Linked DNA regions of Homo sapiens. The protein of the gene in region 1 interacts with the protein of each later gene in a biochemical or structural test. Each region holds a gene or a part of one and is shown on either strand. Other genes may lie near its edges.

The links.
Region 2: the proteins of ASB11 (region 1) and BIK form a complex in vitro, tested with the Homo sapiens proteins (one study listed by BioGRID).
Region 3: the proteins of ASB11 (region 1) and PAICS form a complex in vitro, tested with the Homo sapiens proteins (one study listed by BioGRID).
Region 4: the proteins of ASB11 (region 1) and DIRAS2 form a complex in vitro, tested with the Homo sapiens proteins (one study listed by BioGRID).

Annotation. Positions count from the first base shown.
Region 1 is NC_000023.11:15,312,622-15,320,373, forward strand, and holds the start of ASB11 (ankyrin repeat and SOCS box protein 11), read right to left. Parts: upstream 3,020-7,752; 5' UTR 2,985-3,019; coding exon 2,804-2,984; intron 1,939-2,803; exon of another isoform or gene 1,866-1,938; coding exon of another isoform or gene 1,748-1,865; intron 1-1,747. UniProt on the Homo sapiens protein: Substrate-recognition component of a cullin-5-RING E3 ubiquitin-protein ligase complex (ECS complex, also named CRL5 complex), which mediates the ubiquitination and subsequent proteasomal degradation of target proteins, such as BIK, DIRAS2 and RPN1.
Region 2 is NC_000022.11:43,120,729-43,127,752, reverse strand, and holds part of BIK (bcl-2-interacting killer), read right to left. Parts: intron 3,738-7,024; 5' UTR 3,731-3,737; coding exon 3,570-3,730; intron 57-3,569; coding exon 1-56.
Region 3 is NC_000004.12:56,453,256-56,460,279, reverse strand, and holds part of PAICS (bifunctional phosphoribosylaminoimidazole carboxylase/phosphoribosylaminoimidazole succinocarboxamide synthetase), read right to left. Parts: intron 6,678-7,024; coding exon 6,519-6,677; intron 909-6,518; coding exon 742-908; 3' UTR 1-741. UniProt on the Homo sapiens protein: Bifunctional phosphoribosylaminoimidazole carboxylase and phosphoribosylaminoimidazole succinocarboxamide synthetase catalyzing two reactions of the de novo purine biosynthetic pathway.
Region 4 is NC_000009.12:90,639,816-90,647,267, reverse strand, and holds the start of DIRAS2 (GTP-binding protein Di-Ras2), read left to right. Parts: upstream 1-4,443; 5' UTR 4,444-4,516; intron 4,517-7,452.

The DNA.
Region 1 (7,752 bases):
AGCATATGCTAGCAGACTCAAGAAACTTAACCTTGGGCTGGGACTTTTGTAAGTCAATTAGCTAATTTACTGATTAAATGTCATATATTTTCCCAACAAACATTTGTCTGACCAGTGCAAAAGTGACCAAAAGCAAAGGTGATTTCTGGTTTGAGTTTGATTTCTGGTTTGAGTTTAACACTTCCACAAAATTTTGTTCTTGATTTTTAATACACCTAAATATATTGTTATGGGATAATTTAGGAATTAGAGAGACTGAGGGGTTGAGGAGGATTTATTGTTTAGGTGTATTGGCCTAGTTGCATTAATATTTAAAGGACTGGGTTTTGAATAAAGAGTTGTTATTTTTTAAGTATTTTGTGGGGCGGGGGAAGATTTGTAATAATATAGTATCTGACTGTTAACAGTGGTATCAAAAGAAAAACACAGAACCATGTGAAAAATACTGGTCCAGGCATGTTACTGCCTACATTCTTATAGAAAGACTTATTTAGCGGCCAGGCACAGGTGCTCACACCTATAATCCCAGCACTTTGGGAGGCCAAGGTGGGCAGATCACTTGAGGTCAGGAGTTCGAGACCAGCCTGGCCAACATAGCGAAACCCCATCTCTACTAAAAATACAAAAATTAGCCGGGCGTGGTGGCGTGCGCCTATAATCCCAGCTACTCAGGAGGCTGAGGCACGAGAATTGCTTGAACCCCAGAGGAGGAGGTTGCACTGAGCTAAGATCGTGCCACTGAACTCCAGCCTGGGTGACAGAGCAAGAATCCATCTCAAAACAAACAAAAAAACAGAAAGTCTTATTTACCAAATCTTGGTAAATTTGGGGGTGGGGGGATTCGTGTATATGTATACACACACACACACACATATACATATATATATGAAAGAAATAAAACTGGGAAATTAACATGCACCATTCCCTGCCTCTTTAACAATAATTGAAAAATGTTTTTGACCTTAGAATACTATGCTACTTGCAAATTAACCTATTTTAAGAGATTGAACAAGTAAAGATATTTGCACTACAGAATGAACGAACTGTATTTAAGAGATTTGTATTCCAGCTCCAGATTAAATTCAAACCATGCTTACATGGGTTTTGACTATAAGGAGGTTTTATACCTTTTTTAAGAGTGCACTTGAGGCCGGGCGCGGTGGCTCACGCCTGTAATCCCAGCACTTTGCGAGGCCGAGGCGGGCGGATCATGAGGTCAGGAGTTCAAGACCAGCCTGGCCAACATGGTGAAACCCTGTCTCTACTAAAAATACAAAAAAATTAGCTGGGCATGGTGGCGTGTGCCTGTAATCCCAGCTACTCAGGAGGCTAAGACAGGAGAATTGCTTCAACCGGGACCTGGGAGGCGGAGGTTGCAGTGAGCCGAGATGGTGCCACTGCACTCCAGCCTAGGCTACAGAGCGAGACTCCATCTCAAAAAAAAAAAAAAAAAAAAAGAGTGCACTTAATTAAAGACCACAAAGACAGAAATAATGCGCAGGTGCAACAGGAGAAAACATTTGTAACATGTTCTTGCCAATATTGACTTTGTTGGACTTCATCTAATTTAGACCAGAAGAATGATTTATCTATGAGAACACCAAAACTATTATTGAAAATTTTAGAAAGCCCTTGCCCAAATTGACAAATTAAATTAGAAGATAACTTTTCAGATCATGCTTAACTTGAAACTTATCAGAAGCATTACTTTTTTTTTTTTTTTTTGTAACTAGTCAAAGTAACATACCTCCCTGAAATGTGTGACAAATATAATCCCCAAAAGAAATCTCTTTCCATGGTCCGGACCTTCTGATACGTTCTGAAACTTCACAATTCTTCTCATTTTCCCCAGTTAATTGAAGCATTCTGATGCTTCGTCCTTGGAGGTCTTATTTCTTTAGATAAGACTGCTGTTGTCTAGTGTCTTCTGAGTTGTCTAGTGTATTGGAATCACATAAGACTATTTTGAAAGAGAATCCTGGATGCAAATTGAAATGGATACTAGATAAAGAATGATGTAATCCTGGAACCCCTGCAAACACTAAAAATACACGGGGAAATTCTGAACTCTGTTTATGAATAAATACTCCTCTATTAAGTGACAATCCCAGGAGTGACAGGGATATCTGACTCATTTACTTTTGTAGCATCTCACCACAATTAAAGTAAATCATTTCTTGAAAGAAATGGACACTATTCTCTACAAAGCATGAGAATTTAAAATGTTTTGCCCAAATCTTGGCATTTCATGTTAGAATAAACTTTGTTTGGAGTGCTTTGCATGCTACCATATAAAATGGGTTTAGTGAAGAGCTTTTCCTGACAGTGACAAGTGGTTAATCAATTCCAGTTGCAAATGACAGCAAAAAAAATACACATAGCTTGCCACGTTTGCTGCTTTAATTATAATTTATTAGTCATTCTATTTCCTGAGAGAATTTAGTCTGGTTAGAATGCCCTTCATTGTTAAAGTTTGCTTTAAAATATTAAAGAAAATAATTATATACAAGTAATTACTTTGGCTAGTAGAAATGAAGTTTCTCAAAATACTCTTAGTAAGCCACTACCTATTTACTTCTTAAATAACAACTGCTACAAGATCTACGAACTTGCAAAAAATAAAGCTGAAAATCCTCCACAAATTGATGCAGCCAACAGCATTTGCTACTTTAAGTGACAATTTTTCAAACTACCCACTTAAAATCAAAGTATAAATATAATCTGCCTTCCAGAAATACTAGTCATATGAATTATCTAGGAGGGATTTTCTTTAAATATTAGGAACAAATTCATGTACTTTTACCTGAAATTCCACCATAGATCTCTTCTGCTATCCTAGCCGCTTCTTTTCTATTTCCTTTGACGATATAGAAATGGGTTAGGAGAGCCAAAAAAACTTTAATTAAAAGCTTAAAGAAAAAAAACGTAGCAAACATTGTAATAAAAATGTTTTTAAAGCCATAGAAAACAGGACCATCTTCCATTTTGGCTTATGCTCTGTATAGGGTCCTAGGACTGTAAAATTTCACTGAGTTATAATTGGTATCATATGACATCTATTTTAAACCTTCTAGCACTCAGTGCTCCTGTTACCGAGATCTCTGTAGGTTCTAATCTAACTGATTTGGCGACTGCATGTGCTGACTCCACAGCAGTGTTAAATAAACTAAAGAAACTTCCTTCTAACCAGAAACATCCAATAGTTCTAGAACTACATAACTCAGTACTATCTAACAGATAAGATTCATATCCAAACATTTTATATTCCTAAACCCCTATTTTTCCTATTTTATGTTAGAAAGCAGGGTTGGAAAGATAGAAACTTCTTGGCTTCCACAGAAACAAAGCAAGTTATTTGACATACAAAAGAAGTGCAAATATGCTGTATGTTCTAAGTGGGAAATACTACTCCCTGGAGCATTTCATTTTCTCTTAATTCTGAAGTTTATAGAGGATTAAATCCAAATCTAAAATATGACCAGTTAAAAAAGACCATTTACCTGGCCGGGCGCGGTGGTTGACTCCTGTAATCCCAGCACTTTGGGAGGCTGAAGCAGGCGGATCACCTGAGGTCAGGAGTTTGCGACCAGCCTGGCCAACATGGCGAAACCCCCGTCTCTACTAAAAGTACAAAAATTAGCTGGGCGTGGTGGCAGGTGCCTGTAATCCCAGCTACTCAGGAGGCTGAGGCAGGAGAATTGCTTGAACCTGGGAGGCGGAGGTTGCAGTGAGCCGAGATCGCGCCACTGCACTCCAGCCTGGGTGACAAGAGCAAGATTCTGTCTCAAAAAAAAAAAAAAAAAAGACAATTTACCCTAAAGCTGTATGTATGTATGTATGCATGTATGCACGTATGTATGTATTTAGTTTTAAGATGGAGTCTTACTCTGTTGCCCAGGCTGGAGTGCAATGGTGCGATCGCGGCTCACTGCAACCTCTGCCTCCTGGGTTCAAGCGATTCTCCTGCCTCAGCCTCCCAAGAAGCTGGGATTACAGGCATGCGTCACCACGCCTGGATAATTTTCGTATTTTTAGTAGAGACGAGGTTTCGCCATGTTGGCCAGGCTGGTCTCGAACCCCTGACCTCAGGTGATCCACCCACTTTGGCCTCCCAAAGTGCTAGGATTACAGGTGTGAGCCACTGCACCCGGCCAAGCCTGTATTTAATAAAAGGCCTATCTTGGATGCCTCTCCAAGTAAGTGTCACACTAGAAGCATCAGACTACTCGCCATGGTAGTTCCATCTGGGACAAGGTCCCATGGCAAGGTTCCCTCCTGATCATTCACTTGCATTTCAAGCATTGGTAAAGGTGGTGCCCATTTCTGAAAAATGTGGGCTATCCTTGATCATGGAAGAGTCATAGTGAAATGGACAAAAGAGATGCCCTAGGTTCTGGATGAAGTACCCAAATATTTCATGAATCAACCTTCTCTAGTTGGGCAATTTTCTCTTATCAGCTGGCCAACACAAGTGAAATGGGTTTATTTTTAGTTTTCCTCATCACTCTAGGTCTCTGCCTTCATTCTTGGCTATGTTCGATTTTGTAAATTTTAAAAATCAATTGAAAAGACAAGCCAAAATATAGTTATACAAGTGGCCTAATAAATCTTAACAAATGATTTATGCAAAAATATGGGAATTTCTCCTAGCATGCAGGCAAATTAGAATGACTGCCTGGTTAAGAACTGTTTCACTACATTAAAAAGCTGACATGTAAGAATACAATCTTGAGTCACAACATACAGCTCATCGATTTCAGTGTATCAGAGCACTATAAAGACCTTGAGTCGTCTTAACTCTCAAGGAACAGACATTAACATAAGATTTACTTTACTGAGCTTATATTACCTGGTAGAATGCCAGTGTATGAAAATACATGAATACAACTCTTTTAGTCCTTTTCATTTATCTTTCTTCAATTATACTCTAAGTAGGCAATCATTTAGTCATGTCAGACCAGTGATGTACATTGTTCTATAACATTATTCAATCTTGTTTTGGTCTTTTCATTTAAAACATGGCTGTCCTATGTTTTACACGCCAAAAAAGTTGGCCATGAAAAGCTCAACTTTATTAAGGTTCAAATGGGTGTCTATACTATTTCTGAGAGGCCATCTTTTTTTTTTTTTTTTTTTTTTGAGACGGAGTCTCACTCTGACTCCTAGGCTGGAGTGCAGTGGCGCAATCTCGGCTCACTGCAAGCTCCGCCTCCCGGGTTCACGCCATTCTCCTGCCTCAGCCTCCCAAGTAGCTGGGACTACAGGTGCTCGCCACCACGCCCAGCTAATTTTTTGTATTTTTAGTAGACACGGGGTTTCACCGTGTTAGCCGGGATGGTCTCGATATCCTGACCTCGTGATCCGCCCACCTCGGCCTCCCAAAGTGCTGGGATTACAGGCGTGAGCCACCATGCCCGGCAAGACCATCTTTACTATATTTGAACATTACATTTGTGATGGGCATAAAAGGCTACTGATACATAAGGACAGTTGATTCATGCTATCTTTCACAGATGAAATCATCAACAGCACCAAGGTTTCTCAGCCTCAGCACTATTGACATTTTGGGACAGATACATGTGTTGTGGGGGATGGCCCAGAGCATCGCGGAATGCTTAGCAGCAACCCTGACCTCTACTCACTTGATGCCAATGCCCCACCCCACCTAGTAGTAACAACCAGACATTGCCAGATGTCCCCTGGGAAACAAAACTGTCCCCCCAAGCCCTAGTTGAGAACCACTGAGCCATACCCAAATAGAAATGATAAAGGATAAAAATCAGTTCCCCCAAGTACTAAAGGCTACAAATCAAATTCTACATAGAACTTTTTCATAATTTTATATTAAAAAATCCAGCCACAGGATGATACAATTCAACATCTAGCCACATCCATTTGGGAATGCAGAGATGGATAAAGAGGCTTTAAAATTACTTCACAAAAGTAAACACAGACCTATACTACCCTGACTTTGCCAAAAATAAGTTTTGGCATAAGATAAATCAAAACATAAACATAGGTGACTGCTTTCCACTGCTTCCCACAAAAGGAGTGGGAGAAACTAAATCAGGGATGTCCAATCTTTTGGCTTCCCTGGGCCACGCTGGAAGATTTGTCTTGGGCCACACATAAAATACACTAACAGCAGATCATGAGATCAGGAGTTCGAGATCAGCCCGGCCAAAATGGTGAAACCCCATCTCTACTAAAAAATACTAAAGTTAGCCAGTGTGGTGGTGGGCGCCCGTAATCCCAGCTACTCAGGAGGTTGAGGCGGGAGAATCATTTGAACCCGGGAGGCGGAGGTTGCAGTGAGCCAAGATCGTGCCACTGCACTCCAGCCTGGGCAACAAGAGCGAAACTCCGTCTCAAAAATATATAAATAAATAAATGAAAATACCCTAATAGCTGATGAGCTAAAAAAAAAAGAAAGAAAGAAAGAAAGAAAATCACAAGTCTCATAATGTTTTAAGAAAGTTTACAAATTTGTGTTGGGCAAAGTAGAAAGCATAATTATGTAGCTCACATACACAGTATAGTTTGTAGATATTTTCCTTGTCTCACGTGATAATGCTAGGGCAATGAAAAACAAGGGCTTATTTGGGTAAGGAAACAAAGGCACAATTGAACTCGCTATTCCATGAGTGAGAGAGAGAAGATATTCTAGAAACAAAAAATGACAGAGTAATTCATCGCCCAAAGGGTATTTCTTGTTTTACTAATAGACCAAGCAACACATCCAAATTGCACTGAAAAAGAATGTGTCGGGGGCAGGGATAGCCTGTTCCACTAGTAAATAATAGTCTGTTCATAAAATAAGACAAACTCAGAAAATTATCAAAATGTCATTCTGGTCTTTATTTTTGGACATGTAGCATGTTTTAACAAATCAGTTTTTCATAGGCAACCTTTTGAAACATCAAAAGAAATACAATATATTTTTCACAAATTTCTCATCACTGTAAATTCACTTTAAAATCAACTAAGTAGCAGGGTAGAGCAATGTGTTTCCATATACCGACCAGTGCAAACTGACAGTTACAATTAAGGTATCCAGAAAGGTTGAAAATTAAGATTTACGTGAAACAAATTTACTTCCATTTGTTAAAAAAAAGAAAAATAATAATTTGCAAATCACATGTTTTACAGGCAAAGGCAACTAACTTTAGATCTTATTTCCATCTCAAATAAATGACAGTTTAAGAATTAAATGACAATTTAAAAAAATTAAGCAAAAATATAAGGAAAAAATGGTGGCATGCCTCTAAAACCTGTTGAATAGAATAATGGCCAAATATTACAGTTTCTCACTTTCCTATGAATACTGGCACTGTTTATTTCATGTTTATATGTGAGTTTCTATGCATAAAAATCCCAGTAAGACTGAATAGTTTAAAGATCAGTCCATTTTTCTCCAACAAAACCCCTAACTTCTAGATTTTAAAAATTGCACTCTTGCTTTTGCATTTTAGTACAAACAAAACACAAATATATTTCTTTTATATCAGTGCAACCAGTTAATAGGCATGTTATTTTTTAAAAAGTAATAAATTTTGTGAATGTTGTCATTTTTAAAAATCCTATACAGAATCACAACACTGTCAGAATCTATGTAGTGCACCCACAAGTGCCTTATTGTTTTGAATTCACAGTCCTTTTCTCACAAAAACCTTAAGAGTTCAAAGAATTCATAATACACACCATGTGGATAATTTGGGGTTAAAAAACCCATGGCTCTGGGCAACAACAATG
Region 2 (7,024 bases), on another chromosome or scaffold:
TGAGGCTCACGTCCATCTCGTCCCCGATGCAGGCCAGCCGCAGGGCCAATGCGTCACTGCAGGGAGCACACACAGGAGTCGGGTGTGGCTGTGCCGTGGAGGCCACATGCACCTGGACCCACCCAGCCAACGGATTGTGTGCAGCTGGGAGTGGCCCAGAGGATAAGAGATGGTGTCAGATTTGGGGCAGGCAGTGAGTGGGCCTCCCTGTATCCCTCCTCCGGCTCCCACTTGGATTCAGAGATACCCATGAGGTCCCATCCGTGGGTGGCCCCAGAGGTGCAAGCTATTTCAAAAAGAATCCTGGGGCAGGCCCACCTGTGGGCTTTGGTGGAAATGGTGGACAAGGGGAACAGGCAGGTCTGGGGGTGCTGAGCCCCCGGATGGCTGAGGCTGACCAAGGGGAATGGACAGGTCTGGTGGTGCTGAGTCCCCCGGATGGCTGAGCCCCCTTGAGCCCCCTTCCCACAGGGGTTGCAGCTTACCTTCCTTTGTGGGAGGTGAGGGGGCTCTAAGACCTGTGTCCTGGTCCCAATCCTGAAACCAGCCCTGCTGGCACCACCCCTCTCCAAATGGGGGGACTAAGAAGCCCCTAGTAGGCCCCCCACTAAACCACATCCTTGATCCTACACCCCACCCGCATTCACTCCCACACAAAGACTAAGACACTCCCCACCCTCCCAGCTTGCTGGTCTGGGCCTCTACCAGGGACCTGTGTGCATTCCATCCCAGTGACTACACCGGGGGAACTCCCAGGGAAGTGGGACTCCTAGGGGCCCTGAGCTGAGGCCGGCCCTGGGCCCTGGCCCCACCCACCTGACCTGCCAATGCCCTGGGCCTACACTCCCTACTTGGAGGGGATGCGGGTGGGAGGGGTACAGGTGTGGGCTGGCAATCAGGGTTGGGGGCTGTGGTCCTACCTTCTGTTACCCTGGGAAACCTCAGGAAAATACTGCCCCAGGCTTCATGTCCTCCAACCTTGTCCATTAATGGACAGGTGCCTCCAGTTCTAAAATCCTTAATGACTAAAAATCCTGAGGCTGAAAAAAAAAATCCTGAGCAGAAAAGAATCCTGTGGAACATGGAGCTGGTCCCTGGCCTGTGGGAGGTGCCACATCAGAGACAGGATTCCCCAGCAGAAAGCAACAGCCCAGGTCAGGCCTGACCATTCTCTTCCAGGCTCAGGGTAGAAACTACTGAGGTCAGCTGCTCCTGGGCCTTCACGTTCCTCATCTGTACCAGGGGAAGAATGAAAGTGCCAGTCCTGGCCGGGTGTGGTGGCTCACGCCTGTAATCCCAGCACTTTTTGGGAGGCCGAGGCAGGCAGATCACGAGGTCAGGAGATCGAGACCATCCTGGCTAACATGATGAAACCCTGTCTCTACTGAAAATACAAAAAATTAGCCAGGTGTGGTGGCAGGCGCCTGTAGTCCCAGCTACTCAGGAGGCTGAGGCAGGAGAATGGCGTAAACCAGGGAGGTGGAGCTTGTGGTGAGCAGAGATCATGCCACTGTACTCCAGCCTGGGCGACACAGCGAGACTCCGTCTCAAAAAAAAAAAAAAAGCCGGGCATGCTGGTGCACGCCTGCACTCCCAGCTACTCAGGAGGCTGAGGCAGGAAAATCACTTGAACCCGGGAGGTGGAGGTTGCAGTGAGCCAAGATCATGCCACTGCACTCCAGCCTGGGTGACAGAGACTCTGTCTCAAAAAAAAAAAAAAAAAGTGCAGGTCCTTCCTGCCGCTGGGATGGCCGGGTGTGCCTGGACATCTGGGTATGCTGCCGTGTGCTGGACATAGCTGGGAGCAGTTGGCAGAGTGCAAGGGTCAGGTCCTACTGGACCTTGGCCCCTGAAACCCCAGGCAAATCCTGCTGCCTCCAGGGTCCTTGTCAGTCCAAGGAAGATCCCTTCTTCATGCCTCAGTGATTCTTTGAAGCCGGGACCAGGAACTGCATGGCCTCCTCAGGCTCTTCCATAGGTTCTGGTTTTCTTTCTTTTTTCTTTCTTTCTTTTCTCTTTCTCTTTTTTTGTGAAACGGAGTCTTACTCTGTTACCCAGGCTGGAGTGCAGTGGTGCAATCTCAGGGCTCACTGCAACCTCCACGTCCCGGGTTCAAGTGATTTTCCTGCCTCAGCCTCCTGAGTAGCTGGGACTACCAGCGCCCATCCCCCCACCCCCGGCCCCATACCTGGGTAACATTTGTATTTTTAGTAGAGGTTGGGTTTCACCATGTTGGCCAGGCTAGTCTCGAACTCCCAACCTCAGGTGATCCGCCCACCTCAGCCTCCCAAAGTGCTGGGATTACAGGCATGAGCCACGGCGCCCGGCCCGGTTCTGGTTTTCTAAAATGAGAGCCGTCAGAGGCAGTTGAACCAGAGCGACTCCATCTTGATTAGGGGCTGGGTAACAAAAGGCTGAGACCTACTGGGTTGCATTCCCAGGAGGCTAGGAATTCTAAGTCACAGGATGAGATAGGACATCAGCATAAGATACAGGTTACAAAGACCCTGCTGATAAAACAGGATTCGGCAAAGACGCCAGCCAAAGCCCACCAAAGCCAAGATGGGCACAAAAGTGACCTCCAGTCATCCTCACTATTCATTGTGCACCAACTATATTAGCATGTTGGAGTCACTCACCAGTGCCACGACAGTTTACAAATGCCACGGCAACGTCAGGAAGTTGCCCTATATTGTCTAAAAGGAGGAGGAATTCTCGGTTCCGGGAACTGCCCACCCCTTACCCGGAAACTCATGAATAATCCACCCCTTGTTTAGCATGTAATCAGGAAATAACTATAAGTATATTCAGTTGAGCAGCCCATGCCGCTGCTCTGCCTATAGAGTAGGTTTTCTTTTTTTGAGATGGAGTCTCGCTCTGTTGCCCAGGCTGGAGTGCATTTTTGCAACCTTGGGTCACTGCAACCTCTGCCTCCTGGGTTCAAGAGATTCTCCTGCCTCAGCCTCCCGACTAGCTGGGACTACAGACATGTGCCACCAGGCCCAGCTACTTTTTGTATTTTTAGTAGAGACAGGGTTTTGCCATGTTGGCCAGGCTGGTCTCGAGCTCCTGACCTCAAGTGATCCGCCTGCCTCAGCCTCCCTAAGTGCTGGGATTACAGGCGCGAGCCACTGCGTGTGGCCCAAATTCTTTCTTGCTTGAGATCTAAGAACCCTCTCTTGGGATCTGGATCGGGTCCCCTTTCTGGCAACAGAGTCACCTCCTTCAAGAGGCCCTGATGTCCTCAGCAGGTCGCTAAGGGCCTGTCTAGCTCCCTGAGGCCCAAACACTGTGCCATTTTGACAGCCAGGGGCCCCAGGTCCATCTTGAGACTGTGAACATGCTGGCTGTCCAGGGGTCTGTGAGCTGGTATCAGGGGAGGGTGGGGCAGCAAAGTGAAGCCGCTCCCAGGGCAGAAGCCTCCATGCCCACATCCGGGAAATCTTCCTCTCGGAGGCCCTGCCTGGGAGGCATCTGCAGGCGCTCCCCCGCTCATAGAATGTCTGCTCATCCAGCCCACCCCTGAAGTCACTATCAGGCAGGGGGTAGGGCAGGCCATGGGGACCTACCTGCCCTCCATGCATTCCAAAGAATCGAAGTCCTCCATAGGGTCCAGGTCCTCTTCAGAGTCAGTCATGCCAAGAACCTCCATGGTCGGGGGTTCCAGGAGCTGCTCATACAGGAGGGTCTCCATCAAGATGTCTCTGGAGAGGGGTCTTACTTCAGACATTTCTCCTCTGGGGCAAAAAGACAGCATATGACTGGACCCCTAAGAACTGAGCAGTCTGGGGGCTCTCTCACAGGATGACCCCCAGATTGTATAGCCCTACTCACCAGCTCTTTTGATCCGCTAAAGCCGTCAATATCCCCCAACCCCAGCTCCCACAGGCATGAATCCTGCTACATGCTGGCTGTGTGCCTCTGGGCAAGTCGCCTAGCATCTCTGTTCTTGGAAGGGAGGAACTTGAAGATGATTCATAAGGGCCCTTTCTTTCTTTCTTTGTTTTTGGATACTGAGTCTTGCTGGAGGCTGGAGGGCAGTGGCACAATCTTGGCTCACTGCAACCTCTGCCTCCTGGGTTCAAGCAATTCTCCTGCCTCAGCCTCCCGAGTAGCTGGGACTACAGGCATGAGCTATGCCTGGCTAATTATTTTGTATTTTTAGTAAAGACGGGGGTTTCATCATGTTGGCCAGGCTGGTCTTGAACTCCTGACCTCAAAGTGATCCACCCCACCTCGGCCTCCCAAAGTGCTGGGACGACAGACATGAGCCACCACGCCCAGCCTTTTTCTTCTTTGTGAAACAAAATCAGAGTATAAATAAATATTAGAAGTTCTCCTCGGACACCAGCCCTCAAGAACCTGTCAAAGCAGAAAACCCAGGCACCTGCTGTCAGCACAGGGGACAGAGGCCAGGCTGCAGGGCGATTCCTCTGTACCACTTAACAGAAGGCTACACCTGTTCTTTGGTGTCTGCTGTTTCTCTTGAGAAGAAAGGCAGAGAGGCAGCATGAGAAAAACGTATCACAATCCCCATTCCCAGAGAGACCATCGCTAATTCTTCTAGTGTTTTTCCTAAACACTTGTGCGCATCACACATCCTTCTTCACAAATGGGATCACCCCATACAGTGTCTTACAGCCTTCTTTACTGGCAGATGCTATTTACCTCTCCGATATCCATTCCACCTGGCTCCTTGCTGATAGAACCCCAATTTTCTTCGGGGTGGCCCTGCATCCTCATTCATCTAAGCCAACCATGGCCCTCCTCTCCCTCAGCTTCCCAGCATCCCTTGCAGCTGGTGACAACCATGTAACCCAGTTCTGGTCAATGAGGGCTCAGAGGCTGGAGGCAGGGGTTGGATGCCAGGGAGTAGACACAGCCAGGGCAGCTCCTTCAAAGATGGAGCTGCAGTGGCTGACCAAGAAGAGCAGAGTGGGGAGGCAGAGAGCGGCCAGGCCTGAGGGTGTCACTGAGCTGTCTCCTCCAACTGTGTGTAAGAAAAATGAACCCAAATGTGTCCTCATCACCATTCACTGAGTTTCCTCTTCTTTGCCACCAAAGGCCTTCCTAACTATGATCATTGCGAATCCCATGCCAGTACATGTTTCATCATGATGGCAGAGAAGGGTTCTGCGACCTGATTCACCATCATGTACCCCACATTTACCCTACAGGGTACCAAACAGCCTTAGATGTAGATGACGATAATGACGATGACTGTGGCACGGAAATCTAATGGCCTAGTTCAAAGCCCGGCTCTGGCAGTTAGCAGCAGTGTGTCAATTTCTTCATCTGTGAAATGGGTTTCATGGTCTGAGAGCCCCGCCCTGGGCTATTGGGAAGACGAAATAAGGAACTCCTTCATGTACTTTGAACAGGGCCTGGCACGCTGGGAGGAAGTTGGCACTAACCATTACCTTTATGCTTCAACTCATTATTTTCTTACCATAATGCCCTGGGTGTTCTTAATTTTTAATTCCTCATGCCTGCTGACAGGACACTCCGCCCTCCCACCATCTCACTGAGCTGTTTGTTCACACAGGACACTGAGGCTTAGAGAGGTTCATGACTAAGCCAAGAAGGGACAGAGCTCCAAGTCTCCCTGACCCCCAGGAGAGAGAAAACTGACGGCAGGCAGGACCCACAGCGCCGCCCTCCCACAGGCCTAGGCACAAGTGTGTGCTCACGACTTGCTTTCAGCATTCAAGGGAGATGGATGGGCCGGGTGCGGTGGCTCACGCCTGTAATCCCAGCACTTTGGGAGGCTGAGACAGGCGGATCACCTGAGGTCAGGAGTTTGAGACCAGCCTGGCCAACATGGTAAAACCCCGCCTCTAATAAAAATACAAAATTAGCCAGGCGTGGTGACATACGCCTGTAATCCCAGCTTGAACCTGGGAGGCAGAGCTAGATTCTGACTCAAAAAGAAAAAATAAGGTTTCACAGATGAGATGTTTTACATTGTATAGACGGCCAGCAGTGTGCGTGTTAAGCTGGCATTAGAAGAACTGTGTCCAGAACTTCCAGCTGCCTTGGGTGTCTATGCAAATGGCATTTCCCTAGGAAAGCAGCTCCAGCCCTTGTTTGCTTTTCCCCCCTTTCCCTTCCCCTCGAAAAGGCAGTCTCCTGCTTTGTGCTCCTGGAGACCCCAGTACCTCCACGCCCCGCAAAGCCAGAGCAACAGTGGAACCTCACCTCACTGTGAGCTGAGCTGTGAGCTGCACCGAGCCTCGCCTTGACCCACTGTGCCCACAGCCCCCTTACCCAGCAGGCATTCCGAGAATCCTTAGGCGCCAGATAGGAAGAAGGCCCCAGCCACCAGAGTGGGCTGCGCTGCCGAGGGTCTGCAGCAGAGTGCAGGTCAGGCCTACCTGAGGAGTCAGTCACCCACGCTCTGCCTGCAAGACCCTTTCAAGCTCCCCACCCTGCCAACCTCCCCATCTGAGTAGACCCAGGACCACATCTCACCTTAGGTTGATACCCTAGCCCAACCCTTCCTGCACCAGCCTCAGTTTCCCCATCTATTGTGTTTTTGTTGGTGGTAGTGTTTTTTTGTTTGTTTGTTTGTTTGTTTTTGAGACAGTCTCACTCTATTGCCCAGGCTGGAGTGCAGTGGTGTGATCTCAGCTCAGGTGCAACCTCCGCCTCCCAGGTTCAAGTGATTCTCCTGCCTCAGACTCCCAGGTAGCTGGGATTACAGGCACATGCCACCACACCCGGCTAATTTTTGTATTTTTAGTAGAGTCGGGGTTTTACCATGTTGGCCAGGCTGGTCTCAACTCCTGATCTCAAGTGATCCACCCGCCTCAGCCTCCCAAAGTACTGGGATTACAGCACTTTGGATTAATTTATTAAATACCCATTACCCTCTACCACAAAGAAGGGACCTAATCTGAACCTTTAACCATCTGGCCTCTGGGCCCAGGCCCTCAGATTGACTTGATATGAATGGCAAAGATCCCATCACCAACTGGGCCTAGGCTGGCCTTAGGGCCCAGATCTGCATGGGAAAAGTGTGGAG
Region 3 (7,024 bases), on another chromosome or scaffold:
GCTTGGAAGATGAATAAAGTTGGGAGCATTCTGTTTTTTCATGAGTGCCCATGGGACAGACAGGGAGAAATGGACAGTTGAAAGTACAAGTCTAGACAGGCACAGTGGCTCATGTCTGTAACCCTAGCACTTTGGGAGGCTGAGATAGGAGAATTACTAGGGTTCAGGAGTTTGAGACGAACCTGGGTGACATAGTGAGAGCTCATCTCTACAAAAAATAAAATTAGCTCGGCATGGTGCTGCAAGATTATAGTCCCTGTTAGTCGAGAGGCTGAGGTGGGAGAACTGCTTGAGCCCAGGAGGGAAAGCAGCAGTGAACTGAGATCACGCCACTGCACTCCAGCCTGGGCGACAGTGAGACCCTGTCTCAAAAAAAAAAAAAAAAATGCAAGTCTGGAGAAATATAGCTGGGAGTCAGTAATGCCAGTTTTAGCTGAGGGAGTTAAGATCATTTAATCAGTGTTAAGGAAGAAACTCAATAGTAGTGACCACCAATACTTAAGGAAAAAGGATAAAGTAAGAGGAATGATAAAGGCTGGCTGAAATATCTTGGTGTCTAGCCTAAGAAAGGAGGGGTTAGATGCTCATGTTTATTAATATGGATCTAGAGAAGCATTTATTCACTAATACATTTTATTTGTGTTCTCTAATTTAAAATTACCTTTTCATCTTGCTTGATTTTCCTTCAGCTAAATTAGAAATTTGTAGTTTTTCCCCTAAAAAATTCAATGGCATTCTTTCTTATAAATTACATTCTCTGATTTTCTTGTCAGCCTGCTTCAAGGAAATCCATGTGTTCAAAATGCTTGCTCGCAGTTTGCTCCATACCAAATGGTTGCTTAACCCAAATATCTGAGCAGCAAATTGAGCTGATCCTTCTGGAGAAAGTACGGTTGAACAGCCAAGACCTATTGGTTCAGCAAGGAAAAGACAGAAAATTGAGCTCAATTAGTAATGAAAATACAACCTTACAAAAAATTTTATACTCAGAGCAGTCCTGCCACAGAAAATAAAAAGCTACTGCATTATTCTAATCTAAAGTAGAATCTGTACAACTGTCTTTAATACCGGAGTGGTAAAGTGATTACAAGAGGAAAAGCAGTCAGTATTACCTGCCATGAAGAGATATTTTATATATATCATCTATCACCCTTCTTATAGAACTCACTTACAAAGAAACTTATCTTTTTGAAACTTCTGTTCACATACACTATCCCTTTCAATCCCTGGCGAAGAACAACTGAAGCAAAATAAGGGTCAAGGTAAGAGTACAAAAGTACCTGTTCTTAGACAAACTTGAGCTATGTTGTTTTGACAGTTTTCTAGCTAATCTTTCTATCTGCATTTGAACTATTTTAATATTTTTGAGCAGTAAAAGTCAAATCCGTAGAATAATTTTAGGAAATGTCAAGTTATAAATAAATATTAATAAGATCCAAGACAGCAGAATAAAAAAGTAACATCCTAGGGGCCACATGTCTGCTCAGGCAGAGTGTCTTGAGGTGGTACTATTATGTCTAGTGTTTGCTAGAATCAGGGGTACTATTATGTCTAGTGTTTGCTATAGTTCCAAAAGCTCGATTTTCCCGATATTCTTGGAATTCATCAGGCTCTTTGACTCCCATTATCCACAAGAACAGAGTCAAATACAAATCACAAGGCCAATTTACTAATTTGTATTAATACGTTATTTTATGGAGCTCCACCCCTTAATATGTGGTATTGGTCAAGTTACTTCACGTTAATTTATTCTCCTCTTCTGTGAGAAGGGAATTTTAACTAGTAGCTACCTGATGTGACACTTCAATGAGTTAATAACATAGATAAAGTGCTTAGAGCATTGCCTGGTACACAGTATGTGCTCCAAGAATGTCAACCACTATTGTTAGCACGCTAGGTAGAGTGCTCCACTCTAATATTTGAAATAACCTGTGCCTCCTGCCCAGGACTCCCTTTCTGGTAAAAGAATAGCTTAAATTGCAGAAAAAAAAAAAAAAGTTATCTAGTGAGCATGACATCAGAGATGAGAAATATGGGCGGTCTTCAGGATTTTACACAGGTTACTGTAAAACTACTCCTCAAAAGATTATCCCCAATTCTAGTGATCATTATGTACAAGTCTTCCAGATTATTTGTCACTCCTGAAACAACACTACTATAAAAACTGCCAATTTTTTGCTTATCATGCTCCCCTTTTGTAAGCTCCATGGGTATCTATACAATTCCTCTGGCATAAATTTGGTTACAGCTTTATTTGTAGCCGCTGATTTTTAGCTTGAGACATTTGTATAATCACATCTTGTTAAAGATAGCTTAGGCACAAAATTTAATTCTCAGAGCCTATAAAAACAGTAAAGGAAATAGGCATGAACACACAAGGCCAGATAACAGCAGTAACATTTTGGCAACTGAAAGGCAAACACAGTGGTAGCTAAGTTAGCAGACCAAGAAAACTTAATCAAAATTAGCTGGCATGGTGGTGCATGCCTGTGATTTCAGCTACTTGGGAGGCTGAGGCAGGAGAATCGCTTGAACCTGGGAGGCGGAGGTTGCGCCATTGCATTCTAGCCTGGGCAACAGGAGCGAAACTCCATTTAAAAAAAAAAAAAAAAAAAAACTTAATTCTAAACTGAAAGCAGGGAAAGATGAGAAGCAACATGACTGACATTACAGAACTCCCCCAAAGGGTGACTGACTAAATTAGTGGCACCAGATACCTTTGGAAGGGAATAGGGACTAAGAAGAAGATGACTGACTCGAAGTCTAAGAAGAAGCTAGGTCCTCAAATCTCCTTCCCCACTCCATCTACCTGAGTAACTGCCTCTTTAAAGCACTGTAGCAATTTTTTTCTTTTTAAACATTATTTTTTTCTGAGACACGGTCTCGCTCTGTCATCCGGAGTGCAGTGGTGCAATCACGGCTCACTGCTGCCTCAACTTCCCAGGCTCCAGTGATCATCCCACCTTGGCTTCCCAAGTAGCTGGGACCACAGGCGTGTGCCACCATGCCTAGCTAATTTTTGTATTTATGGTAGAGATGGGGTTTCGCCAGGTTGCCTAGGCTGAGCTCAGGCAATCCACCAATCTCTGCCTCCCAAAGTGTTGGGATTATAGGCATGAGCCACCAAGCCAGGCCTTTAATTTTTCTGAAGGTAAAACAGACTTCAGTCTTGGCGTCTTTGAACTAGGGGACGCCAGGCACAGACAACTTTTGTTCTCTGAGTAATTCTGGTCAACACTTAAGAAAATACCTAGACACTAATGTGAGGGGTTGTTTGAAGAACAATCCCTACCAGATACACCCCACAGTGAAGCCCAATTTTGACACGGACCACCCACTTGAAGTTTCCAATTGTTTTTTATAGTATTCCACTCTTAAAAGCGCAAACAGCCAAGGATTACCAGACAGCTGAAGAAAGTAACTATATGCAACAGACTATAATCATCTCCAGAGAACAAAAAAGAGCTTTTGGAAATTTAAAAACATACAAACACAAACAACAACAACAACAAAAACCCAGAAAACAAAAACCAAAAGAAATATAAAAACATTGTGTAAAAAAAAAAAAAAAAACCCCAGAGGCAGTGGTTCCTACCCAATCCCAACACTTTGGGAGGCTGAGGTGGGAAGATTGCTTGAGTCCAGGAGTTCAGGACAAGCCTGGACAACATACGGAGTGCCCATCTCTACAAAAAGTAAAAAAATTAACCAGGTGTGATGGTGTGGGCCTGTAGTCATAGCTACTTGGGAGTTTGAGGTGGGCGGATCACATGAGCCCGGGGAGTTCAAGGGTCCAGTGAGATATGATCATGCCACTGTGCTCCCACCTGGGCAACAGAGCAAGACCCTGTGTCAAAACAAACAAAAAACACCTGTATCCAAAATGAAGGCCGGGCACAGTGGCTGACGCCCATAACCTCAGCACTTTGGGAGGCCAGGGCAGGCAGATCACCTGAGGTCAAGAGTTCGAGACCAGCCTGGCCAACATGGTGAAACCACATCTCCACTAAAAATACAAAAATTAGCCAGGCGTGGTGGTGCATACCTATAATCCCAGGTACTCAGGAGGTTGAGGCACGAGAACCGCTTGAACCTGGGAGGCGGAGGCTGCAGTAAGCTGAGATTGCGCCATTGCACTCCAGCCTGGGCAAGAGAGCCCGACTCCGTCTCAAGAAAAAAAAGAAAAACTCAATAGAAGGGTTGGAATGTAAAATTTAGGAAATATTCCAGAAAGTATACCAACAAGACAAACAAGTAGAATAGAAATCAAGGGAAGCCCAAATTTATTCAAATTCAAAAATGAGAAGAGAGAATATGGAGGGGTATGAAAATTAAATAATTCAAGGAAAATGGGGACTAAGAAATCAGAATTTCAGATTAAAAGAGCTCACCGAAAGTCCATAATGAAAACAGACTCAGCACATCACATCTGTGTAAAATTTAAGAACAATGAAAACAGACAAAAGATCCTGAAAGATTCCAGAGAGAAACAAAATTCATAAGAAACCTAGAATCAGACTGGTGGAAAAGCAATGGAGTCCTCAACTGTGGATGCTAGGAGACAGTGGAGTAATAATGCTCCCAAAATTCCAAAGCAAAATGATTTTCAGCATAGGATTCTATTTCTAAACTATCAAGTATAGGGCTTCAATATACACATTTTAGATACACAAGGTATCAAAATTTACCTTTTGTATTCTTTTGCCCCCAAGTTCAAGAATGTACTCCAACAAAATAAAAATAAACCAAGTAAGGGGAAAACATGGGAGATCCAAGCCTAGAGAAAGGCAAAATGAGTCTCCAAAATTATGGTAAAGGGGGATCCTAAGACAACAGCAGTACAGGATGCCTAGAGAGAAGCCAGTCCACTGGACCAGGTTGGAGGGCTCAAAGACTTAATATACTTGACACATATCAAGACTGGATATATACAGATATGAGAAAAGTTAGGGATTTTAGTAATAAAGCAAATCTCCTACTGAAACAATATTGACCCTCATAAACTGCAGAATATCAGATCATATCTTGGACTATGATGAACGAACCACAACACTGTTACGTGATCCAGTTCCATCAGCCAAAAGGGGACTTCCTTATGTTATTATCTTTTATCCCCAATTTTTTATTTTGAGACCGAGTCTCACTCTGTTGCCCAGTTTGGAATCCATTGGTACAATCTTGACTCACCTCTGCCTCCCAGGTTCAAGCGATTCTCCTACCTCAGCCTCTGAGTAGCTGGGATTACAGATGCTCACCACCATGCCTAGGTAATTTTTGTATTTTTAGTAGAGATGGGGTTTCACCATATTGGCCAGGCAGGTCTTGAACTCCTGACCTCCAGAGATCTGCCCACTTCAGCCTCCCAAAGTGCTGGGATGACAGGCATGAGCCACTGCACCCAGCCTTATCCCCAATATTTAAGAATAAAATTGTATTCTCTCTACAGAAGTAACATGATCACATTTACTTTAAAAAAAAAAATCAATACCATGAATTCTTGGGAAAAAAATATCTAAACTTGATTTTATTACAGATCTCACCATCAGTTTATAGAAAATATAGGGAATGGAAGAGCATGTTTACCACCACCTAGAAATGTAAGAAGCCAAATCCAAAATATAGAAAATTCTATTGAAAAAATGAAAGGGAAAAAGGGAGGATGAATTGTTATATATTTAAAAAATCAAGAGATTATCAACTAAATGCAATATAAGGACTGTGGTGGATCTGAACAAACAGATGAGACAATTAGAAAACTTGGACCCCAACTAAAAATTATACCTTAAGAAACTACCACTAGTCTTTCTTAGGTGTGAATATGGTATTGAAACTGTGTCCCCAAGAGTTAAAAGATACCAACAACTAACAGAAATTCCTGAGTTTGCAGAATGGTAGATTAAACAATATGGCCAACTAGAGTCTGCACAGAACCAGCTTACTGATGTCACAGGCCCAATTTCCACCACAATTCATTCTAACTCCCCCAAATTTACACACGTGATCCATGAAATAACATGAAGAGATAACTGCACATGCCCAAGGACTTTCTAGACCTCCCCTTTCCTTCCACCAATCACCTACTAATCCCAGAATCTATCCCCTAAACCTTTTCTAATAAAATTGCTGCCTTAAAGCCAGCACAGATTTGAGCTGGACTCATGTCTCCTTGTTGGTCAACTTGAAAGAGGAAGCCTTTCTTTCTCAAAAACCTGGTGGCTTAGATAGTACTGGTTTCTAATGCATCAGATAGTGGGCTCCTTTTGTTCTATAACAATATCATGATTATGATTTAAAAACTAGAGCCTGTATTACTTAAACATATACTTAAGTATAAATTACTATAACGTCTAAGATCTGCTTTAAAATAATCCAGCAGGAGATGGCTGTAGACACAACAAGATGTTAATTGCTGAAGCTAGGTCATGGGTACATGAGATTTTATTATGCTATTCTGTCTACTGTTGTGCATCTGTTAAATGCTTGTAATGAACAGTTTTTAAAAATTCAATGTATCTTACCACTGGGTAGTCGAAGAGAAGACCACACATCCTGAACTCCCCAGTCTGGTGTGAGGGGAGGACAGCTGATAACTGGATATGCAGTGTTCCCAGACATCACTGGTCCCAAACCATTACTTCTGCCTGCCACTGCCACAAATACAGTAGGAATGCCATCCCCTAGGGAAATGACAAGAGTATAATTATGCTAAACATTCAAAACAGATTTAAAGACAGGGTTTTTTTTTTTTTTTGGTTTAAGGCCTATATGTTTTAATTACTTGAGGTCCTTGAATAGTCTTCTCTGAAAAAACATAAAAGATACTATTATTACACATATATTCAAAACATAAGGTTACTCTGCCACTTACTATAAGTCAAGTAATAAAGTAGCTGGAATCGGTTTGGTTGTTTTTGAGATCTACATTATAAAGGGGATAGCAGGGTGTCAGTGAGGGAATAGCTCATAGGCCTCTTCTATTGCTGTATAGGCTGGCCAAAGTGAAGAATGACACCATCTGAACAGG
Region 4 (7,452 bases), on another chromosome or scaffold:
CGGACCTACTGATTCAGAAACTCTGAAGGTGCAGCTCAGCACTCTGCTTTTTAGCAAACAATCCAGGTGATTCTGATGCACAGAAGAGTTTGAAACTCATTGCACTAAAATTAGTTTATAAATATATCACACATCTATAATTTTGGAGTATCACTGCCGAAGGCTCTCAGGTAACTCCCTTCCTTGACATTATCTTCTACCAAAGACAGCCAACTTGCCCAAGATTACATTCCTAAGGAGTGAGGAGAGACAGCACACAGAAAATGACTGATCCAGAGTGGCTTTCTTGCCTCAATGTGGGCTATCTTTGAAGGGCCACCCCAACTTCAGAGCTCTTATGTTTGGACCAGTAAACTCATGGACAAGAATGAAAAGAAAATTTTATTTTATTCTTCCTTTTTGGGGGGAAGCCTTTATGTGCTTCCTTTCTCCACAATCTGCAGAGCGTTTTGCACTTCAGGGCTGTGACCTTAGTTTCCAGGATTTGGCCCCTCCAGAGATTAGGATGGAGTGACCCTGTTGAGGAGGGCATGGTGACTGGGGCTTGAAGTACAGAGAGACCTAGGCCAGTCCTGGAGGTGGACATCCTGGCTGGTGCCAAGACTGCTGGGAAATGGAGTGTCCTCTGGGCAGCAGAAGAATGTGCCCCACCCTTGCATGGTAGAACTTTAGAAGGGACAGCTGGGAAGAAACCAATGTTGTGATGTCAGGAAAATCTGCTGAGTCTTCACTACCAGAAACATCACAGCAGATGGGGTGCATTGTTCCCTTGAGCACATTCTACCAGCATGGTAACTTTTCAAGAATTTTACAGGAGATATGTTGATAGGGCATTTGCTAAACGTATAATTAAAAAAAATTGTAGTGCAATGAGTTTCAAACTCTGCTGTGCACCAGAATCACCTGGAATGTTTGCTAAAAAGCAGATAGCTGGGCTCCACCTTCAGAGTTTCTGAATCAACAGGTCCAGGGTGGAGCTGACATGTGTATTTATAACAACTTACCAGAATTGCTGATACTGCTGGTCCCCAGAACCACTGTCTTAGGGAGAACAGGATAAAAGTAAGACAAAGAAACCATGGAGAACATAGTCCAAAGGTGTGTATTTTCATTCACTGCATGCTTGCTTGCTCAGCACCTGATCAGTACATCTGCTGCCTTCTCCCTTAGTTTGTGTCCCCAGTGTCAGAATTTGGCTCTTCCTCTTTGTTGGCAGTGTCTGGCACTCTGTGGACTAAGGTCATAAATGGAGCTATGAGCCATCACACAGACCATGCTGGCCTGGTAGGGGAGCAGAGCTGATGTGTACCTTGAGGGATGTGCAGTTTGTATAACATTCAAGGTGACCAGCAGAGGGTGAGAGTGGCCTGGGGCTCAGCAGGTGCATCCCTCACCCAGCTGGGTATCCAGAGTGTCTGCACCTGTCCAGGAAGTTCTTTGCACAAAGGGTCTTCTGCCCCTCAAGCCACGCACTGTCTGAGCAGAGGGAAGGGTTGTGTCCACCAAGAGAGGGGACATCTTCTCATTTGCACAAGGGCCAAGTGTAAGCTTGCAGAGTCCTAAGCTGTGAGAGCAAAGCAGGAACTCGGCTGAAGAGGCTCTTTTTACAGCCACCTAAAGACTCTGGGGAAAGTGCATCCGTGAGACTGTGGAGAAGGATGGGGCTTCCCCAAAAGGAGTGACACTGGATTGATTTACTTTACAAAATGGAGGACCGTTATACTTCTTCCACCTGAGGATTGAATAGCCCACTACCATTTGCTGCTGGTGTCTGCATGACCTGAGTGGCATAGCTCATCTGGATTCCTGCTCTAAGCAGCATCAGCATTACCAGGGACCCCACCCCGGACCTACAGAATCAGAAAACCAGGCCATGGCCCAGCTGGAAGTGTTTTAACAAGCCCCCTCCTCCAAGGCGATTCTGATATATTGAAGCATTTGAGGTACTCTGGCTTGGAGCTTCTCCACTTCTAACAAACTTGGGAATCTCCTGGAGATTTTATTAAAGTCAGAATCTGAGATTGAAGTTCTGGAGTGGGGATTGAAAGTCTGTATTCTTAATAAGTTGCTTGGTAATGTGGATGCTGCAGATCCGCGAATTCACGTTGAGTAACAAAGGTTTATATTAGATTAATGGTTCTTGACCTTAACCTCTGTTTTACTCTTGGCTGTTATTAAAAAACAAACAAACATAGACTGGGTAGCCTATAAAAAACCAAAATTTATAGCTTACAGTTCTGGAGGCTGGAAAGTCCAAGATCAAGGCAGATTTGGTGTCTAATGAGAGTCTGCTTCCTGGTTCATAGACGATGCCTTAGCTCTCTGGGCCCTCTTTTATAAGGGCACTAATCCCATTCATGAGAGCTCTGTGCAGAGGTCCCACCTCTTCAAGTTGGTAACTAGAATGTCAGCATATGAATTTTTGGGGGACACGAACAGCAACTTCACATAAACACGTTGAAATATATGGATGTTTGCATCCCATCCACGGAGGTCCTGTGCCAGTTGTGGCATGAGCTGGACTGGAAATTGGACCTTGTTTTAAAATGTATTTATAGCTCCCCTGCTGATTCTAATGTGCAGGCAGATGTCAGGAGCCCCTAGCCTAGAAGCAAATGGGTCAGGCTCTTAGAAGGATGTAAGTTAAGGGGAAGTTAAAAGAGGAATTTGGGAGCAATCTGCTCCTTCTGGCTGATGAAAGTCTAGGGATTGTGGGGAGTGCCAAAGGGGCCAGAGACATCATATTAAGTGAGTTGCTCCTTGTTTAAATGAGGCCTTTGGGCCTCTGCTTCACATTCTCAGAACAAATAATGATGGCATGTGGCAAAAGGCAGGCTTCTTCTGCATTGTGGGATATTCAGCATAGAACTGGCTCTCTTTATCAGCTCCTGATTTGCTCTCCCTGCTTCCATACTAGCACTGGATTTTTGCTTATTTAATCTTTTTACCCTCCTTTGTTTAGTTCTTAAATTCCATTTTGTCATTTAACCTGATAACCTACATTTTGGTTGTCATGGAAAACAACATCCTGACTTATAAAACTGGAAGGTTGTTTCAGGACCCAGAAACTGCATCAGGCAGTGCTCAGAATCCACTGTCATCATATTTGGAGCCTCCTCTGGGATGGGTTTCTGAGTGGCCATATATTCCTTTGCAATGAAGAGGAGACTGTGGAGGACAGGGTGACCACTCTGCTTTTAGACATCATTAGTGTAGGGGCAGGTTTGTTGAAGTAGCCTTAAATGACTTTAGTAAAAAGAGTGTATTTTTATTTTTATATTCCAATGGCTGTAGGATCAAGGCCAGAATTAGGATGAACTGGGGAATAAAATAAGTTTTCTTGACTATAAGTTGTAAAATGCGTAGTTTTTAAGTATGATTTTTAAAAAGCATATTTCCTGTGAATAGCAGGGCAGAATTTTACTATGGAAATGAACTTCAAAGGTTAACATGTTTTAATTATTTAGAAAGTGAAGACGGGATTAAAACAGATAAATAGGATTCTACAACAAAAATCAAATGTAAAGAACTACAGAATATTAATTTTGCTCAAGTCTTTTAGCATATTTGGTATTACAAAAGAATGAGTAATATAACCAAGAGAAGAAATCTTCCTTCAGTCTGTAGTTTAAACTTAACATGGATCAATGTTATGCTCAAGCACTTTTAAAAATGCCTGCACAGAATTGTTAGCCATTAATATTTTTTCTTGCTGATTCACCTGTTTTTTAATCAACGCGTCTTTGACAAAATTGTTTATCAATGTCAGGAAATAAACGTGGTCATTTGCTTGAAATGCTAATGTGAAACCACTCAGTGAAAAAGCAATTCTAATCCAAGCTTGCCAATGGCGGTGTTGTCATAGGATCCTATTAAATTAGAATATATTAATCTACACTGTGTGGTTGGCTATGGTATGGGGCAGGGCATTTCGTCTGCCTTTAAATGAGTCGGTTTTTAAAAGTTAAAATCTGGAAATGGAAAAAAAAAGTCTATATGGTTAGTAGCGATTATAGTTCGCAATGCGAACAAAAGAATCTGGTTCCCTTTCAATGGAATTATTTTAATTCATTAAATTATCAGAAAATTCCAGTCCTCGCCATCTATTCCAAGAGCATGCAGTAGGTGGCACCTAAAAGCTCTTTGGAGGCGAACAGGCGCCATTTAAGCAGGAGCAGCAGCCTCTGCAGCAGTTGGCACATCTGAGAAGGCAGAGATTGAAGAGAGTAGGAGGAGCGTGCAGCGGCGGTGACAGTGCCAGGCCGGAGCGGCTCAGGCCAGCGCAGGTGCAGGGGCTGCGAGCGGGTGGAGCGCGAGGGCGCTGGGCGCAGGGAGCACGGCCGGTGGGCGGTGCAGGGCGCACGGCGGGCGAGCAGCTGACAGCATCGTCACGGCGGCGGGAGGGAGTGCGCTGCGCCTGCCTCCGGGAGGAGCCGCATCCACACACCCTGCGCTGCCCTGTCCTGCGCGAGTGGAGCTCTGAAGAAGCTCTGAGCGGAGTTGTGTTCTTCCCCAGGTAACCGATTTCCCCCTTCTGCCGTGGCTTCGCTGCGTCCGCATTGGGGCACGGGCGGCTTTGGCATGATTGTTTGCCAGCCCCTGGAAAGGGATTACCGCTCTCAGGGAGGGCGAGTCAGCGTGTACTGGAGTTGGTAAGAGGGGAAGAAATCTGCATTTCTGTATCCTTGTTAGGGAGGGTGAGCATCATGCTGTCCTTGTCTAAAACATGTTCTTTTTTAAAAATCTGTATCTTACGTATTATTAGGGATTCCTTCCAAAACAGGATTTACCGTTTTGGAAAATTCTACTGTGCAGGTGTTTCTGTTAATGTGGAAGTTTAATGGATTTAGGAAAAGAGTAAGAAGATGTGGTCTAAAGTGAGAAAAAAGCCAAGCACGCTAGGGACTGCCGTTTGGTTCGGCATGCTTTCATCCTCGACTCCTTCACTTCATGCGCTTGGCCGAGACCTGTCTAAATCTTTTGTTTGTCTTCTTAAAGAATGTGTTTCATGATATCTACATGTGCTCCTTTCCGCTTCCTTGTTGTAAGAGCAGAAGATGGGCAAGGGGCTGCATCCAGTCCTTAGTTGTAAGACTGTGGTTTCCCATCAGATGACAATGACTGCTGACAGCTCCCAGGCTCGCCTGAAAAGCAGTGCTGGCTTCTGGCGTTGTGGGAACCTGCCTCTCTCCTTCTCTCTTGAAAAATGCTGTTTTTCCTCTTTAAAACTCCAATTCACATTCTATGTGGGTTTGGGAGACTTTTAAACTAGAAGCTCTGTGAATCATCTGTTACATCCATTGAATGCTGGAATACAACATTGTGGTGGAATTCAGTTTCTTCCTACTGTGCAGAGACACAGCTTGCCTTCCCTAGGAATTTATTTTACATATTTGCCCTCGTTATCTTTTAAATGGATCCCTTCAGATGTGAGAAGCTAGTCCAGCATATCAGAACTTTTCTGCTTCAAACTAAAAATTTTCAAAAATATTATTTTTGAGGAAGATTTTCCAGGTAACGCTAAAAGTCTGGAGCATTTTACATTTCAAATCAGTCACAATGTGCTCCATTTCCAGTGACATTTGGATTTGAGGAGGTGGAGGGGGAGGGAGAGAAAAGGGGAGGATAAAATTAGAATAAATTTAACAAATTTGTAGGGGAATCATACTTTTTTTTCTTCTTGGTTGTTGTCTGAAATTGAAAATTGTCCACAATTTTATCTATCTCTGGAAATGCAGGAGGCTTTGTGGGCTGGGGACAGGAAGACACATAGTTCATTTTATAGAAATAAAAGATACAGTGGCAAGGAAACATTTTCATCCCATTTAACATATGGCATTTAATTTGGTAATAGTCCCGGGCAAGCACAGGGAAAGGAAGGAGAAAGGAGGGGGTATTGCTGTCTATACCAAGGCACAGAACTGCTGCTCACACTTCAGTGATCCCTGCAGATGGGAAGTATGTGTTCATGGTTATTGTAGAAACCTCCAGAATCTTTCTTTGTTACAGCTTTAATAGAATTGTTCCTAAGAGGCGACTCAGAAAACATACAGATTGAATGCCAAGTTGTGGAAGTCACTTTTCAGCTTGTGTCTAACAACCCAGCATTCTCAGCAAAGCAGTTTCCTCATGAGAAGAGTGGAGGAGACCTTTTTTTTAAAAAAATTATTTATTGTATGTTGTTCGTATCCTATACACCACACATGACTTTTACTGTATTGGAAATGTATTATTTCAGTGGTAAATACTGCATATCTTACTGAAAAATTAAAACCTTTTAAAAAACAACTGGGGTGCTTTTGTCAAAAAGAGAGTGTATCTGTGATAATAAAAAGTATTGTTCATTCTTCTTCTAATTTGGAGACCAGAGTTGATATGTTGAAAATTAACCTATTTATTTATGCAAAATCATCATTTCCCTGTGACAAATGCCATACATTTTTCCACCAGAGAATTTCTTTGTGAGAGGACCATTCAGTTGTCTGGGGTGGAGTGGTTGCCTGCCAGCTGTTTTAAGTAAAAAAAGTGTTTGGTGTTGATCTGCAACTTTCAATTCAGATAACAACCATCCCCAATTCTCACTCATATGGTGGATTGCCTCTATCTATCATCAGTCTATCTACCTGGTATAAGTATTGACAGTGGACAGATGTCTTTTTAAGAGCAGAACTGATTTGTAGGACACTGATTTTGGTTATGATTTTTCCAGGAAAACAGCTGCTCAATCAAAAGGGAATACGATGGTTCTTATGTTGTCAAAATTGCTGATGGCTTTTTAAGAGTTAAATTTACTAATTCATACATATTTAAACATGAACTGAAAGTTATTTAACTGGTGTCAAATAATGCTTTAGTTTTCATTATATGACATGGCTTGCAAGCCTCTCCTCACTGACGGGGAAGGACTCTATGAAGTAATAAAAACAAATGCTCCCTCATTCTCTCCTTCTTTGCTCTCAGCCACTGGCAAATTTAGGAAAGAGATTCCTTATAGCTGTCTCCTAAATGCAGTGAAGTGTTTTCTTATAAATCTGTACTGTACAATAGAATTGAAATGTGTGAGTCATATGCACAGTTTAAAATGTCCTAATGGTCGTAATGGAAAAGTAAAGAGAAACAGCTGAAATTAATTTTAATGATATAGTTAAGCCAGCATATAAAAAATGACCATTTAGATATAATCCATACAAAATACTGGTAAGATATTTTACCTTTTTAAATGCCTGCTGACGACTTACAAGACATCTCAATTTGGATTAGCTGTGCTTCCAGTGCTCAATAGCCCACACAGCTGATGGCTACTGTATTGTCCAGCACAGCTATAGATCATTACTCAATTGACGGTAATTTAAAAGCTAACATGTTCGGCGCCATCACCAACTAAGCGCTATCAAAAATAAATATACAAATGATCTCAGATTGCTGTGAGTTATGTGTCCTTCTCTTTCCTGC